Linked DNA regions of Homo sapiens. Each later gene encodes a partner of the first gene's protein in a complex. Each region holds a gene or a part of one and is shown on either strand. Other genes may lie near its edges.

Region 1 (7,023 bases):
CAAAAGCCACATTTAAAACACCAGAAAAGGAGGACAGTTATCCTTGGCAAGAGATTTAAAATGACCTAATATAACAAAGTTTAATGATTTGTCGGTCTTCAAACACAACTAACCAAAGAGTCAGTTTATTTCCCAACTGGTTAAAAATATGTATCTTTTTCTAAGCGAAACAAAATAGGAAACATAGAAAGACTCTTCTCTATCCCAATGCTTAAAATTTTTTGCTGTTTCACTTATGGTATGAAGACTCAAATTTCAACTTTGGGTAGATCAACCAAATGGCCTCTAATTTTCAAATGTTATTTAGCATCTACTTCAAGTTTCTCAAAGGGAGTCTAATTTCACATTTTACATCTTTAAAAGTTGTATTACACAAGATGTAAATTTCAGCCACAGATTCTCAATTGCAGGGGATAACTTGCTATCCAGGTTAGAATAAAAGCTTATAAGTAAACTACAGCAGGACAAGGGCGCTGGTATTGTATAGCAGTATTTATCATTCTACTGAGGAAACAAATGCCTAGCTGTTCTGCCTAGCCAGATCTTAAGTGACTATAGTAAGGCTGCTGCAAATTTCCAGTCTCCAGAAAAGATTCAAAGACAACACTGGATGTATTTCTTTTTTCTTTTTTTTCGGGGGAGGCAGGGGTGAGCCCCTAGGGGTACTCCTGTGTATGTCTAGTTTTGAAGAATAAATTAAGCAAAACTATTTTCAGGCCAAATAAAGCAAAATGGTAGGTAATCTCAAGAATGACTTATATTCTACAAGAGAATTTGTATTTCAAAATACTACTGTAATTCTAATTTACCATAATGACACTTCTGTGGCCCTACCAGGAAAAAAGCTTTATTTAATATGTAAACCAATCCAGAAAAACTATATTTGGTTAAGAAACCATGTATCCTAGAAGCTTTCACAAATTCTTCCTCACTAGATAGTCAATCCACTTCACAAAGCCCTTGTCAGGTAATGACTTAATTATGGCAGAGCTAACCTATTTCTTTTGTTTGTCTCTCACAGTGGAGACTGAACTCCTTGAGGACCCTTAGTCACTACTGAGTCTACAATCTCGGCACAAATTAAATTTCCACAGTTAAGAGGGAATGCATACTTACCTGGCACTTTTCAATTTTATTAAACCAACTTAGGAGGGTTTGAGAGTGTTTTGAATGTTTATTAGTTTTTAGCCAACCACAAAGAGTTTTTAAATTCTAATCTTCTGGTATTTCCCTCATTATAACCACCTGTTATCAGTACAGTTCCAAAGGCCCAAAATCTAATCTATGTTTTCACTGCATTTGCATTTGTCAAGTGGAAACATCACGATGTTTGGTGTCCCTGCCCCATACACATATATGCTTTAAAATTCTCAAGTGCTAAAGGTTAAATTAAAACTCAAATATGAAGACTCTCCAATCTACAAATTGGTTCCTTACAACTTGGGACCTGATCATTAACACTTGAAATGCTGTACCTTTAGATAAGGTGATTTACGGTTCTAACAGGTACTTTTAATAAATATAACAAGCTAAACTTGAGTATCTAGGAAGAAACTATGCAGCTGTTGATTCAAGCCTGAAAAACACATTTAAAGTAGCCCCCCCAGCCATCAACAGGGAATACATGCCAGTTCCTAGTGGATGCCTGAAACCAGGAATAGTACACCAAAACCTGTATATACTATGTTTTTTCGTATACATACCTATGATAAAGTTTAATTTATAAATCAAGCACAGTAAGAGATTAGCAATGACTAAGAATAGAACAATGATTTTAACAATACGCTATAATAAATGTTATGTGAATGGGATCTTTATCTTATTATACTGTACTCACCTCTTTTCAGAATATGGTTGACCTTGGGTAATTGAAACCACAGAAAGTGAAACTGCAGGTAAGGGGGAACTATTGTACTTATTATACATATTTTTTAAATTCTTACCTGCATTGTTAGTACCAGACTGACTGTCCTGGGAATTATCATTGCTTTCTGGGGGAGGCTGCAAGGAGGGTGATGGAGCTGTTTTAGTTCTTTTTTTGCTTGTCTTTCTTTCTACTTGACAGTCATCATCTTCATCATCTTCGCTTTCACTGAGATCATCAAAGCCAAAATACTTAATTTTGTAATTAGAACTTCCAGAACCTCCTTCATCACCTCCTGTCTCATGATCTTCAAAACCAAAAAATTCAAGTTTAACATCCTTTTTGGATTTAGTATTACTAGGTCGAAATCTAGTAGTAGTCTTAGAAGTTGCAATATCTGCCTTTTTTCTGAGACGACCAGCTTCTCCCAAATCTGCAGGAGTGGATGCAGTGAACTCATCCATGCTGCGTTCCATAGTATCCTGTATGGTAACATTACAAACTGACAAGCAAGATGGATGTAAAACAGTGTAATCTCTAGTCCGTCCAACTGTCCCTCTAAAACTGGTCCCACAACTTACACCCCCTTTCTTTGCCTGATTCAGGCCATCTTTACTCGATTCACTGTTTGCTTTGGCTAAGGCCTGACTGGTGCCGTCCATCAGCTTATCAAAATTTGATGCTCCTTGGGAGGATTTCGTTTTATTGGCCCTACAGTACGTCCTACAGTTGGTTGGCCTAAGAACACTTTGTACAATATCTTCCTCAATGGCTTCATTCAGATTTTCCAATCGATTTTTAAAATCGTCATCCTTCATCTCCAAAAGGGGATCACTATCCAAACTTAAAATACAGTCTTCTGATCTGATATCTTCAAAATCATTATCCCATTCAAACAAACCAGTTCTAACAGATCCCTTGATTGGAGATATTTCTGATGGTGATTCTGGCCTTTTCCCAAACTGGGAGTTCCAAGTATCATTTGTTTCCTTGATTTCAGAAGCCACTGTAGTTTCTGCATTGGGTTTCTTAGTACTGTCATCAGCATTTTTGTGAATATGGTGACTATTCTTTTCATGTTCTTCATGAAAATTCTCCACTTTATCTGTAAAAATAAGTCAAAGGATAAAAACATGAGTGGTATCAACATAAAAGTTAATAAATAACATATATGTGGTTAATCAATAGTATATGATCAATCTTGGAAGAACTGCAAATAATTTTAAGTTGTGAAGAAATTAACATTTACATATCAGACATTTCCTCTCCTATCTTTTCAGTGTATAGCTCTCATGCCTTCTACTGACCTTTCCTCAGGCAACCAAGTCCCTTAAAATTGTAAACTCACAAGAAATTTCAGCAGGGTTAAGCAACTGAATCCATTCAGAATGACATGTAAATGACTCAGCCAAACCTTCTTAGGGGTATTATGGGCTTTTCAAATAAAGATGCTTAAATTAAAAATCATTTAGTAAAACCTAAACCAACTGAACAGTTAATAAAAACCTTCTACCAGTGTTTTTATTTATCTGGGATAGGGCTGCCCATAAGGTATGCTAGTTCTATCCAGAAACCTGTCCATAGGATCAGGTTTCTCTAGCTATTTCTGTTCTTTCTTCTAATCCTAAATGCCATATAATCTCAAGGGAATTTTTAGCAGTAGTTCTGGTGTGTTAGTTAAATGGCTAATAGTGGCTATTTATGCATATCAGCCAGTAATAAATCCTCAGCCTGCCTATTCATCTGGTATGTGGAGAATTCATTTTTGTTGCCTTCAATTTTTACTATCAGAACATTTTTACAACCTTTCCAAATGAGATACAAATATGATTCCAACTGGTATTATTAATTCCCTCAACATTTACTTGTAGAAAAACACTGACAAAATGTATACCCTATGCCAAACAATAAAATTACTTCTACAAAATACATCTACATTTAAGAAAAGCTATTTACAAATCTCAATTAGCATCATCAAATACAGGTGAGAGGGATGCTTTACATGGACAGATTCACTGCATAATTTTTAATTCTACCCAATAGGTTTTCCTGCCCTCAAGACAGGATCTCACTGTCACCCACACTGGAATACAGTGGTGTGATCACAGCTCACTGCAGCTTCAGAGACCTCCAGGCCTCAAGTGATCCTCCCACCTCAGCCTCCTGAGCAGCACTCCCAAACAGCTGGAACTACAGGTGTGCACCACCACACCTGCCTAACTCCCCTTTTTATTTAACAGACAGGGTCACACTACGGTGCCTAGGCTGGTCTTGAACTCCTGGGCTCAAGCAAACGTCCTGCCTCTGCCTCCCAAAGTGCTACAATCACAGGCATGAGCCACCACGTCCAGCCTCCAAAGGGTTTTAATGTAATTTAACAGGTTAAGATTTGGTAATATCTTTTAAAACTAAAAATGTACATGTGAAAGAAAGGACTTACTCTTGAAGCCAGCAGTTTCATTTACAAGTATTTAGAAATAACTTTCCACGAACACAAAATTACATAAGTAACAAGAAACTCAATAGAACACTGTTTCCTGGTTTTTGCTTTCATAAACAATATACCAATTAATAAAGAATTAAATTACCATATAGCAACACACCTGAATACTATGCAGTTGTTAAAAAGAATGAGGCAGCTCTACATTATGTACAGATATGGATGCTCTTAGAGATGGAATGACTAAGGGATAAGGAACAAGAAAAGACTTTCATACTTCTTGAATTTTATACTGCATGTAAGTTGTCTATTCAAAAGCCAAAACATAAAAAATGCCAAAATTGTATATTTTTGGAGTCCTTATCTGTTAAAAAAATATATTTATGAATCAAATACAACATCTTGAATTTACTTTAGTGAGGATAAAAATGAAACAAGACTGGCAATGAATTGTTTGTTGAAGATTAAACAGTTGAACTGTTTAATGGAGATGGAGATACAAATAGACATTATTTTTGTAGACATAAACACACAAATGTATACATCTGTGTAACTGTATACTAGTCTATACACACAAATATATACAGACTTCCTTTACCCTCTTATAAGAAAATGAAGATACTTCCTTTGATTTCTTACCAAACCCATCATTACACAGATGAGAAAAAAAGGCCCAGAGGGGCTAATGACTGCAGAGGTTCTCAATTAAATCAATAGTCAAAAGAGACTTCATAAAAAAGACCCATACCAAACTATATTACACTACGTCTAGTGGTGGCTGCTAAACACTAAAATGCTAGGCCAGGCGTGGTGGCTCATGCCTGTAATCCCAGCAGTTTGGGAGGCCAAGGCGGGCGGATCATGAGGTCAGGAGTTCGAGGCCAGCCTGGCCAACATGGTGAAACCCTGTCTCTACTAAAAACACAAAAATTAGCCAGGCGTGGTGGCGGGCGCCTGTAGTCCCAGCTACTCAGGAGGCTGAGGCAGGAGAACTGCTTGAACCCGGGAGGCAGAGGTTGCAGTGAGCCAAGATCATGTCACTGTACTCCAACCTGGGCAAAAGAGCGAGACTCTGTTTAAAAGAACAACAACAACAAAACTAATTCACTGGCTGGGCGCGGGGGCTCACACCTGTAATCCCAGCACTTTGGGAGGCTGAGGTGGAAATAGCAAATGTTTATCTCACGGTGTGCTGAGGACTAAACTTAAACAATGCCTTTAACCTGTAAGAAATCTGTGCAAATGATACAAAGTGGCTTGGAGACCATAACCCATGAAATACAGTTGAGGCAACTAGAAAGGTTTAATTGGTGCAGGGATGGAAGAAAACTGCCATTACATGAAACCTGCCTTTAAATATCTGAATGGCTGTCATGATAAGAAAACAAACTTCGCCGGGTGTGGTGGCTCATGCCTGTAATCCCAGCACTTTGGGAGGCCGAAGCGGGTGGGTCATCAGGTCAGGAGATTGAGACCATCCTGGCTAACACAGTGAAACTCCGTCTCTACTAAAAATACAAAAAAATGAGCCAGGCGTGGTGGCGGGCATCTGTAGTTCCAGCTACCCGGGAGGCTGAGGCAGGAGAATGGCGTGAACCCGGAAGGCGGAGCTTGCAGTGAGCCAAGATCACACCACTGCACCACGGCCTGGGTGACAGAGCAAGACTCCATCTCAAAAAAAAAAAAGAATACACACATGAAAAATGCTTATCATTAGTTGCTAGGGAAACACAAAAGGTAAATTCCTTAATATACCAAGAATCCTTACACATCAGTAAGTCCAATGTCCCAGTAGAAAATGGCGCTAGGGGCCAGGCACAATGGCTCAGGCCTATAATGCCGGCTCTTTGGGAGGCCGAGTCAGGCAGATCACTTGAGGCCAGAAGTTCGAGACCAGTGTGGCCAACATGGTGAAACCCTGTCTCCACTAAAAAGACAAAAAAAACCCAGCCAGGCGTGGTGGCACATGCCAGTCGTCCTCGCTACTTGGGAGGCTGAGGCACAAGAATTGTTTGAACCCAGGAGGCAGAGGTTGTAGTGAGCTGAGATAGCACCACTGCACTCCAGCCTGGGCAACAGAGCAAGACTCTGCCTCAAAAATAAATGAATAAATAATAAGCCAAGAACACAAAGAAGCAATTCATTAAAATATATATCTATAATGAATTAAATAACTTATGAAGGATACTCAATTTCACTCACAATTAAAACTCAAAGTAAAACAAAGCTGAACTATATTTATATAAGCCCTCGGTATGTGCCTGGTAGTATTCTAAATACTTTCTATTAATTTATTTTATCTCAAAGCAACCATCAGGCCAGGTGCGGTGGCTCACGCCTGTAATCCCAGCACTTTGGGAGGCAGAGGTGGGCAGATCACGAGGTCAGGAGATCGAGACCAGACTAGCTAACACGGTGACACCCCATCTCTACTAAAAAATACAAAAAATTAGCCGGGCGTAGTAGCACACACCTGTAGTCCAAGCTACTTGGGAGGCTGAGGCAGAAGAATCGCTTGAACCTGGGAGGCAGAGGTGGCAGTGAGCCCCGTCGACAGAGCGAGACTCAGTCTCAAAAAAAAAAAGAAAAAGGAATAACAGGGACATAGCAGTACGTGCTTATAGTCCCACCTAGAGCTACCCAGGGCACTGTGGCCAGCGGTTCATTTGAGGCTGCTGTTATGATCACACCTGTGTGAGTAGCCACGCACTCCAGCCTG
Region 2 (7,993 bases), on another chromosome or scaffold:
AAATGGACTGAATCCTAAACAGAAATTATTAAAAACCAGACGCTGAAACAGACGGCTAACCACAAAACTTTATTCTTGGTTAAATGAATAAAAAGGTGAGAAGGGGATGGAGGGTAATGTACTACCCTGAATTTTTATTAATAAATATTGCTAAATCCTGAATAGAACAAAAAAAGACAATGGGGAAACTTCTAAGCTTCCAGGATATCTTAAGGGCTGCCCCAGTTCCACCACATGAATATGACTGTGACCTCAGATAAATCAATGAAATTAAAATCTGAACCTAATTTCTCATGTATAAGTGAGTTGGAGATCATCCTTAAGTTTTCTTGTTGCTCTTTAACACTAACAGAGGAAACACAAATGTATTCTTTTCCAATATACGTTATATACAGTCCATGTCATTCAAGAGTCCGTATGCCAAATCATACTGAGCACTCCTGTTAGTTCTAAGGCAGTCTCTAAATTTCCCAAGAGGTAAAGCAGAAAGAATACAGCTTCCCGAAATATTCCTTCCCCACAAAGTTTTGGGTATTTTCTACCATTGCACCCCTCTCCAGGGCAAGCCCTGCCTAATACAGAGTATCACTTTATCTTAGGCCTAACAAATTATTGATAAAGCCTACTGCTCAAAATGTTACTTCGTTAAACAAAGCTGCAGAACAATTTAAACAACTTTCATCCAACAGCCAACTCGGTAGAATCTTATTACAAATAAGCTTAATACAAACATCTCCTAACAACAATCACTATCATCACCACATCTCTCTCTAATATGGGGAGAGGGGAGAGACATAACACGAGAGAACAAAGCCTACAAGAGTAACAAAAGCTGCTGTAAAAGAAAAGTTAATATAGGGAAAATCAGCCTTAACCGAAACAAGGAGAAAAGAAAAAAAGAAAAAAGGCCAAGACAAACACTACCTTCCCATTTAAAATATACCTTTAAGTAAACGCCAGCTGAGAAGAGAACAATTTTTAAAACCATCAGAAAAAGGAGGAAAAAGTCACTATTTTGGTAATTTTTATAAAGTCTAAAGTGCATCTTGTTAGACATATTTGTAAATGTATATTAAGTACAAATTTTATTTATAAGGAATAATGTTCTTAAGATGTGTTTTTACAGTTAAGTTTCTGAGACTAAATCTATCTTCACATAAAAGTTCCCATGTAATTTTCACCTACATATTCAGCACTACAAATTTTAATTAGGTTTTCTGCTATCACCATGAGATACAAGATTAATTGTTGCACGAACTGACCTGCATACACCATTGAATACTCATTTTATTGTCCCTAAAGATGCGAACATCTCAGACATGTGTACTGCATGAAGAGCTGTCTTTCAAGTCCATATTTGTGGCTTTTAATTACTTTACCTGACCACTACATGAGTTAATATAAAAAACGTTCTGTCTGGGAACTCGGGATGTGTTAACTGAGAACAATGACTATACTGCCGTTCAAGCATTGGGTAATTACGATTTATTTACAGCTCGCCTCCTGTATGTAAACACAACTTGAGTTTTTGAAGTTCATTAGGAAGATAGTATAGGATTACCCAACTCTCTCCACACCGCAGACCAACCCTCTAAATTAAGGCTATACCCAAAGTTTTCGAAACTATTTCATCAACAGGGTAGGATCAGTCTGGGCACCACTGCCCATCCATCACCTCTTATTAAAAGTACGAGAAGCACTTTCTTCGACATAAAAAAGGGTTAACCCTCGCTGGGGGAGAGAGGCTGTTGAAGACGCGCGTGGAGTGGGTGGGTAGCTGCTCTACCAACCCTTCCCGGAGCTCGCCCCGTCCGCGGCAAGGAACGCAGCAGCCTGCAGCTCCGAAGGCGAGGGGCGGCGTTTCTGGTTTCAGTCATTCGTCCAAAATAACTGTCGAGCTACTTAAGAGTTAGCTTTCACGTCTCTACCAAAAACCAACAGCAGTAGCAGCAACAACAACAAACAAGGTTTTTCTCCGGACCGAAAACTTTTAAAGTAACATTAAAATAACAGTGTAAAAACAATAACGAGTCACAATTGCACACCATTTTCCCCGCCGTTCCTTCTGAAAGGAAAGCTAGAACCCAGTTGTGGCCTGGGAGGAGTCCCTCCACGCCAGTGCTGGGCTCTTCCTCAACTGGCTGCTCGGGGACCACTCGGGGTGGCGCGGTGAGCGCGATTTCCCTCCGGCGAGCGGCGAGGGACAGTGCAAAAATGTCACGCTCAGCCCGTCCCCTGGCCCGAAGCGGAGGCCAGGCGGCGCGCGGGGACCCGGCGGCGGGGGCGAGAGCGCCCGCGGCCCCGACCCGCGGTCCCCGCCCGCCCCTCGCCCGGAAGGGGGAGAAGCCCGCCCGCGGGAGGATTCAACAGGAGCACCGCGCCGCCCGCCTGCCGCCCGGGAAACAGCCGCCGGCCGGCCGGGGCGCGGGGGGAGGGGCGCGGCGGCGGCGACGGCGGCGGCGGGAGGGCGCGGGCGGCCGGGCGGCCCCGAGACCCCCGCCCGCGCGCAAGGTCACCGCCCGCCGCCGCCGCCGCCCCGGCCGGGATCAGAGCGGCAAGTTTAATTTTCCAGAGGCTGCGGCAGAACCCGCGGCGTGGAGGCGCGCGCCGGCCGCGGGGCCCTCCCCACCCCCACCGCGCAGCCGGCCCGCGCCCCGCGACCCCCGCCCCGGGCCACCGCCAGGCAGCCACCCGCTGCAGCCCCCGATGCCGGGAGGCGAGTCGCGCCTGGCACCCAGGCGGGCGGCGCTTCAGCCCTGCCACACACACGCACACAGCGGCAGTGGCGGCCGCTGAAAAATGGAGCGCCGCAGCCAGAGAAGAGAGACATTTTCTTTCCGTTAACTGAATTGTTTCCTACCTCCGGGTTGCCGACTCGCTACTCCGCTCACTCCGGGGCTCTCCGGGATCCGCCGCCGCCGCCGCATCCAATCGCCTTCTCCCCCCCCCTCCCCTTCCGCAGCCAGCCCTGCCGTTCCTCCTCCTCTCCGCTTCAAAATGGCGCCAAGCGCTCTTCGGCGGCTGCTCCAATCGAACCGCCGCGGACAGCACCCGGGGGCAGGCAGAGCGCGGCATGGGTGCGCAGCGCCCCCTGCCGACCAGACGGCCCCGAGCGCGTCCGCCCTCCGAGCTCCACCCCGCCCCGTCCGCGCGCGCGCACGTCCCTCCTCAGCCCCGCCCCGTCCGCGCGCACGCAACCACACGGGCACGCCGCCGCGGGGCCCGCGAGAAGGGCAGCTGTCAAGGCGTCCACTACTCTTGCGGCTTCCTAGACCTCTACCGACAAAAACCACACCGATTGTTACGTAGCCCTATCTTTTTAGATAAAGGTTGGGAGATTTTTTTAAACCCTGACATTCAGCACAGGTGTTGTGATGGGTAAACAGAATTGGTATTATTAACTACTTTGCTCCTTACTTGTTAACTCTGACCTAGTCGTCTCGGAATGCCATACAAATAGTTTTCCTACACTTTACGTGTTATGTCTTTATTAAATCTCCCCGCTTTCCTAATTTGAGGAATTGTTTATAGGTGGTAGGCTGGCGGAGACAGAGTAATTGAGCCTGTGACGAAGCATTCCATTCCTTTGGCAGAATTGTCCTTATTAGAGGAAGAAATCATCTGGAGACCACAGGGACACATTCCAGGAGGTGGGTCTCCTCCCCTCTTCACCTCTAAGGGATGCCAGTCCCTCCTGCAGCTGTAGAGTGGGTTTAGCCTGGTCACCACAGCAGATCACCTACCTTGCGGGAAGGTTTCCTCCCCAGCCGGGTCCCTGCCAGAGCTGAAGAAGGGACTTCCTCCTCTTTTTACTTTAATACCATCCCTGCTGTAAGGAAGTTTCCCCTGATATGATGTATTTGGTTACTAGAATTTTGTTCCAGGGAGAATTTGTTTCAACAATGAACAAGCAAAGTGTGAATGAATGGATTACAGTAGGATACTTATCAACTGAAACAAAAGAGAGGTAATGCTGATATATAAACTAATGCTACTGTGTTAGAAAAGGTATGTACATCGGTATTCCATCGGACCCGGGCACCTAGAGATACTGAGACCTCTTCATTTCCATTTTTGTGGGATTCGCTGGACAATTCCGCCTCAGTCTCCTCCAGTGCTTGCTAGACCAATATGTTGTGTTACTGTATTCCTGTGTCCAAGATTTTGCCACTGAATACTCCAGGTTCTACCCATTTTATACATTCCTCGATGAAGTCTACTATGAGTTTTTTCTGCCCTCTTTTTAAAATTATCTCAGGAATTTTCTTATTTTACATCGTTGTTCCATCAACATAAATCTTGTATGGGAGAGTAGGATGTCTAGATCTAGAAAAACCTTTCCTCTTTGGTTGTTTTTATTATGTTTTTTACTTTATTTTCTTCAATTCCCAAACCTCCAAAGCCAGGAAGCCAGAAAGTTTCAGAAGAAAGCCAGGATGAAAGCAAGAATTTTTTTTTCTTTTTTCTTTCTTTTTTTTTTTTTTTTTTTTGAGATGGAGTCTTGATCTGTCGCCAAGCTGGAGTGCAGTGGCGCGATCTTGGCTCGCTGCAACCTCCCTCTTGAGTTCACGCAATTCCCCTGCCTCAGCCTCCCAAGCAGCTGGGACTACAGGCACACACCACCACTCTCAGCTAATTTTTTGTAATTCTTAGTAGAGACAGAGTTTCACCATGTTGGCCAGGATGGTCTCGATCTCCTGACCTCGTGATCTGCCTGCCTCAGCCTCCCAAAGTGCTAGGATTACAGGCGTGAGCCACCATGCCCGGCTAAGAGTTTTTGTATAAATTATTCAGTGCTCTTATCCCCATTATTTGACACCTGGAAGCCTCAGTAAATATTTTGTTGGATGTATGAATTGTTTAAGAATGTCACTCTACATCTTGTATATGGCAGTGAGTCCTGAAAGGGCTGAAGGTGTCACGTCAACTTTGTGAGCAGTTTTGCCAGTTTCACCATTAACCCTCTCTCTTATAAAATGATGCCTTGAATTTCAATGAGGCCCGGAATACATATTGCCCACGTTAGGCTGCTAACACCACAGGATTAAGCCCAAGAAAAGAGTGGGCAGAAAGGAGATAGCCTTCAAAATAGCTACATTGTAAGGGTCAATGGGGCAATTACCATTAGGACAGACAGAGGAAAAACCCTAAAGCTTTAATGAGGCATAGTTTCTAACAAAAGGGCATACTTTTATATGACTGCAAGTGGCTTTACAGAAATCAGTAATATAAACCTTCATTTAAAACAATATTGTTTGGGAAAACTAAAATCTAAAGTTGATATTTGAACAAAAATAATCTTCTGTGTTTGGGATTTTTAAAAATAGCCAAGTTGCAATTCATTAGGAGCAACATAACACAACATTGTTTAAGACAGTTTAAGAGTGTGAACCATTCAAAACTCAGTTGTGAATGCTTTCTACACCAAGAAAGAGAAATTATGTGGGAATTATGTCCAAATGCTGGTTTTATACAGAAATGGTTAGGAGAATTGTCTTTGATTATGAATAACCACAAATGTAGTTCCCACCTCTACTAATTTTACTTTGTCACTATAACAAATCATCACAAAGTTGGTGGCTTAAAAGAGCACAAACTTATTGTCTTACTGGAGTGCAGAAGTTTGACAGGTATCTCGCTGGGCTAAAATCAAGGTGTTGTCAGGGCTGTGTGTCTTTCTGGAGGCTCCAAAGGAGAATCCCTTTTCTTACTATTTCCTTCTTCCAGAGGCTGCCCAGATCCCTTGGTTCATATCCTCCTTCCTCCATCCGCAAAGCCAGCTCCATGGCGTCTCTCTGACCTGCTTTTGTCACCGCAGCTCTTCCTCTGACTCCCTCATCCACTTTTAATACTCTTGTGATTATATTGGGCCCACTTGGATAATCTCTAATTTAAGGTCCATTGATTAGTGACCTTTATTCCCCTTTGCCATGTAACATAACATATTCAAAGGTTTGGGGATTACGACATGGATATTGTAAGGGGACCATTATTCAGTCTGCCACATCACTCATATTTGAGTTACCTGGGCTTTTTTTAATAGAGTCCAAATTTGAGGTTAAAGAGGTTAGCAAGTTGAAAGACATCAGGAATGCACACAATTAACCTGGACAGTCCTAAATATACCCCTATGGCCCCTACTGCATTTTGAGTACAGCCTTGCTGCACTACAGCATGGTTTCCAAAATATGGTGAAATGTTTATCATATTATACATAGTAGAGCACACTGGGCAGCTAATTAGTAAATGATAAGACTGGGCCCTACCTAGACAAACATTACCGGTTCAGCATAATTCAAGGTATGTCCCAAAGGCTAGTCAAGACAAAAATATGATCCCTGTTAGCCTGCAACAGTGCTGAAATTCCCACTAGACTAATTTATTGGGTTAAGGCATTGGATTCTCAGAAAACATGTTGGAATGTGGTTGTGTTACTTGAAAAAGTTAGGCAGGGCTCGGTGGCTCACGCCTGTAATCCAGCACTTTGGGAGGCCAAGGCAGGTGGATCACGAGGTCAGGAGTTCAGGACCAGCCTGGCCAAGATGGCGAAACCCCGTCTCTACTAAAAATACAAAAATTAGCCAGGTGTGGTGGCAGGTGCCTGTAATCCCAGCTACTTGGGAGCCTGAGGCAGAGAATTGCTTGAACCCGGTAGGGGGAGGTTGCAGTGAGCGGAGATCGCACCACTGCACTCCAGCCTAGACAACCGAGCGAGACTCCATCTCAAAAAAAAAAAAAAAAAAAACACTAACCCATTCATATCCATTAGGAGAAACTAAGCCCAACAGAAATTAGCTTTGTGATATTTTAGGCATTAGGCAAACTGGTGAGGCATTTTGATAAACTCCAAGCCCCTGAAGTTGATCCTTCATTCATGACATCACTACTGCTGAAAGATGGTATACGGGCTCTTTTCCTTCACCCTCATCCAAGACTCAGCCCCTGGTGCCTCAAATTTCTCCCTCCACAATTAATCCCCTGCATGAGGCACTGTGCCCATCCTGTGATCCTCTTTACAATGCAAATATTCCTGAAAGGATGCCACATTCATCTACAGTCCCAGGGCAGCTGTTCTTAACTCGAGTGGAGTGGAAGAATACCAAAATCATCTGGGAAATTTCTGTAAACTAGATCTTCAGAAACTATATTGGAATATGTTTGATACATCTAACTTTTTTAAAGAGTTCCAAAGATAGATGTCAGAAATTTTTACACAAAATATCGTAGCTTGCATTATCATCCAAAGAGAGATTTGGGTTTAAGAAAGCATTTATCATCAGTTCAACTTCTGGAAATAATAAAGAGATATAGAACCAAGAGCAATTTCACTTGAAAAGTAAGGAGAATGACAAAGGAGAATTTAGACTGCTGCTTTGAATATTTGTGCAAAGGCGTATAAATTCCTTCAATATAATATGTTTCACATATATTCACATGCAATCACTAATCAATGTTATTTACTTTTGCGCTATTTGAAAAATCTACAGGCCGGGCATGGTGACTCATTCCTGCAATCCCAGCACTTTGGGAGGCTGAGGTGGACAGATAGCTTGAGCCCAGGAGTTTGAGACAAGCCTGGGCAACATAGCAAGACCTCCCTCTATAAAAAATAAATAGTTAGCTGGGCATGGTGGCATGCACCTGTAGTTCCAGCTACTCGGGAGGCTGAGGAGAGAGGATCACTTGAGATGAGGAGAGGTTCCAGTAAGCAGTGATCGTACCATGGCACTCCAGCCTGGGCAACAGAACAAGATTCTGTCTCAAAAAAAATTTTTTTTTAATTTAAAAATCAGCATTCCAGTGTAAGATGGCCAAAAACTCCAAAACAATTTTTCAGTTTCACGTTTCTGTTCTAGGCAAGCAGCCTGTTTTTGAGCATAGGGTAGTAGCTCACTCTATATGGAACCAAGTTTGTATCACCTCTTATTCCAAGTAAATTGACTCCTAATACTTACTCTTCATGGATACGTAGGAAGCATACTTTGCTCTAACA

What was found. Proteins that work in one complex are often made in the same cells at the same time.
Region 2: the proteins of WAPL (region 1) and PDS5B are in contact, whole or in part, in a crystal structure (PDB 5HDT), measured with the Homo sapiens proteins. Residues at the interface, in NP_055860.1 of Homo sapiens: Lys7, Thr8, Tyr9, Ser10, Arg11; in NP_055847.1 of Homo sapiens: Gln47, Phe88, Ala92, Pro93, Ala95, Trp137, Val138, Lys139, Ser140, Asn142, Ile143, Phe145, Glu146, Glu187, Gly188, Asp189.

What each region holds. Positions count from the first base shown.
Region 1 is NC_000010.11:86,497,775-86,504,797, forward strand, and holds part of WAPL (wings apart-like protein homolog), read right to left. Parts: intron 2,970-7,023; coding exon 1,944-2,969; intron 1-1,943. UniProt on the Homo sapiens protein: Regulator of sister chromatid cohesion in mitosis which negatively regulates cohesin association with chromatin. Involved in both sister chromatid cohesion during interphase and sister-chromatid resolution during early stages of mitosis.
Region 2 is NC_000013.11:32,581,461-32,589,453, reverse strand, and holds the start of PDS5B (sister chromatid cohesion protein PDS5 homolog B), read right to left. Parts: upstream 3,003-7,993; 5' UTR 2,861-3,002; intron 2,186-2,860; exon of another isoform or gene 2,046-2,185; intron 1-2,045. UniProt on the Homo sapiens protein: Regulator of sister chromatid cohesion in mitosis which may stabilize cohesin complex association with chromatin. May couple sister chromatid cohesion during mitosis to DNA replication.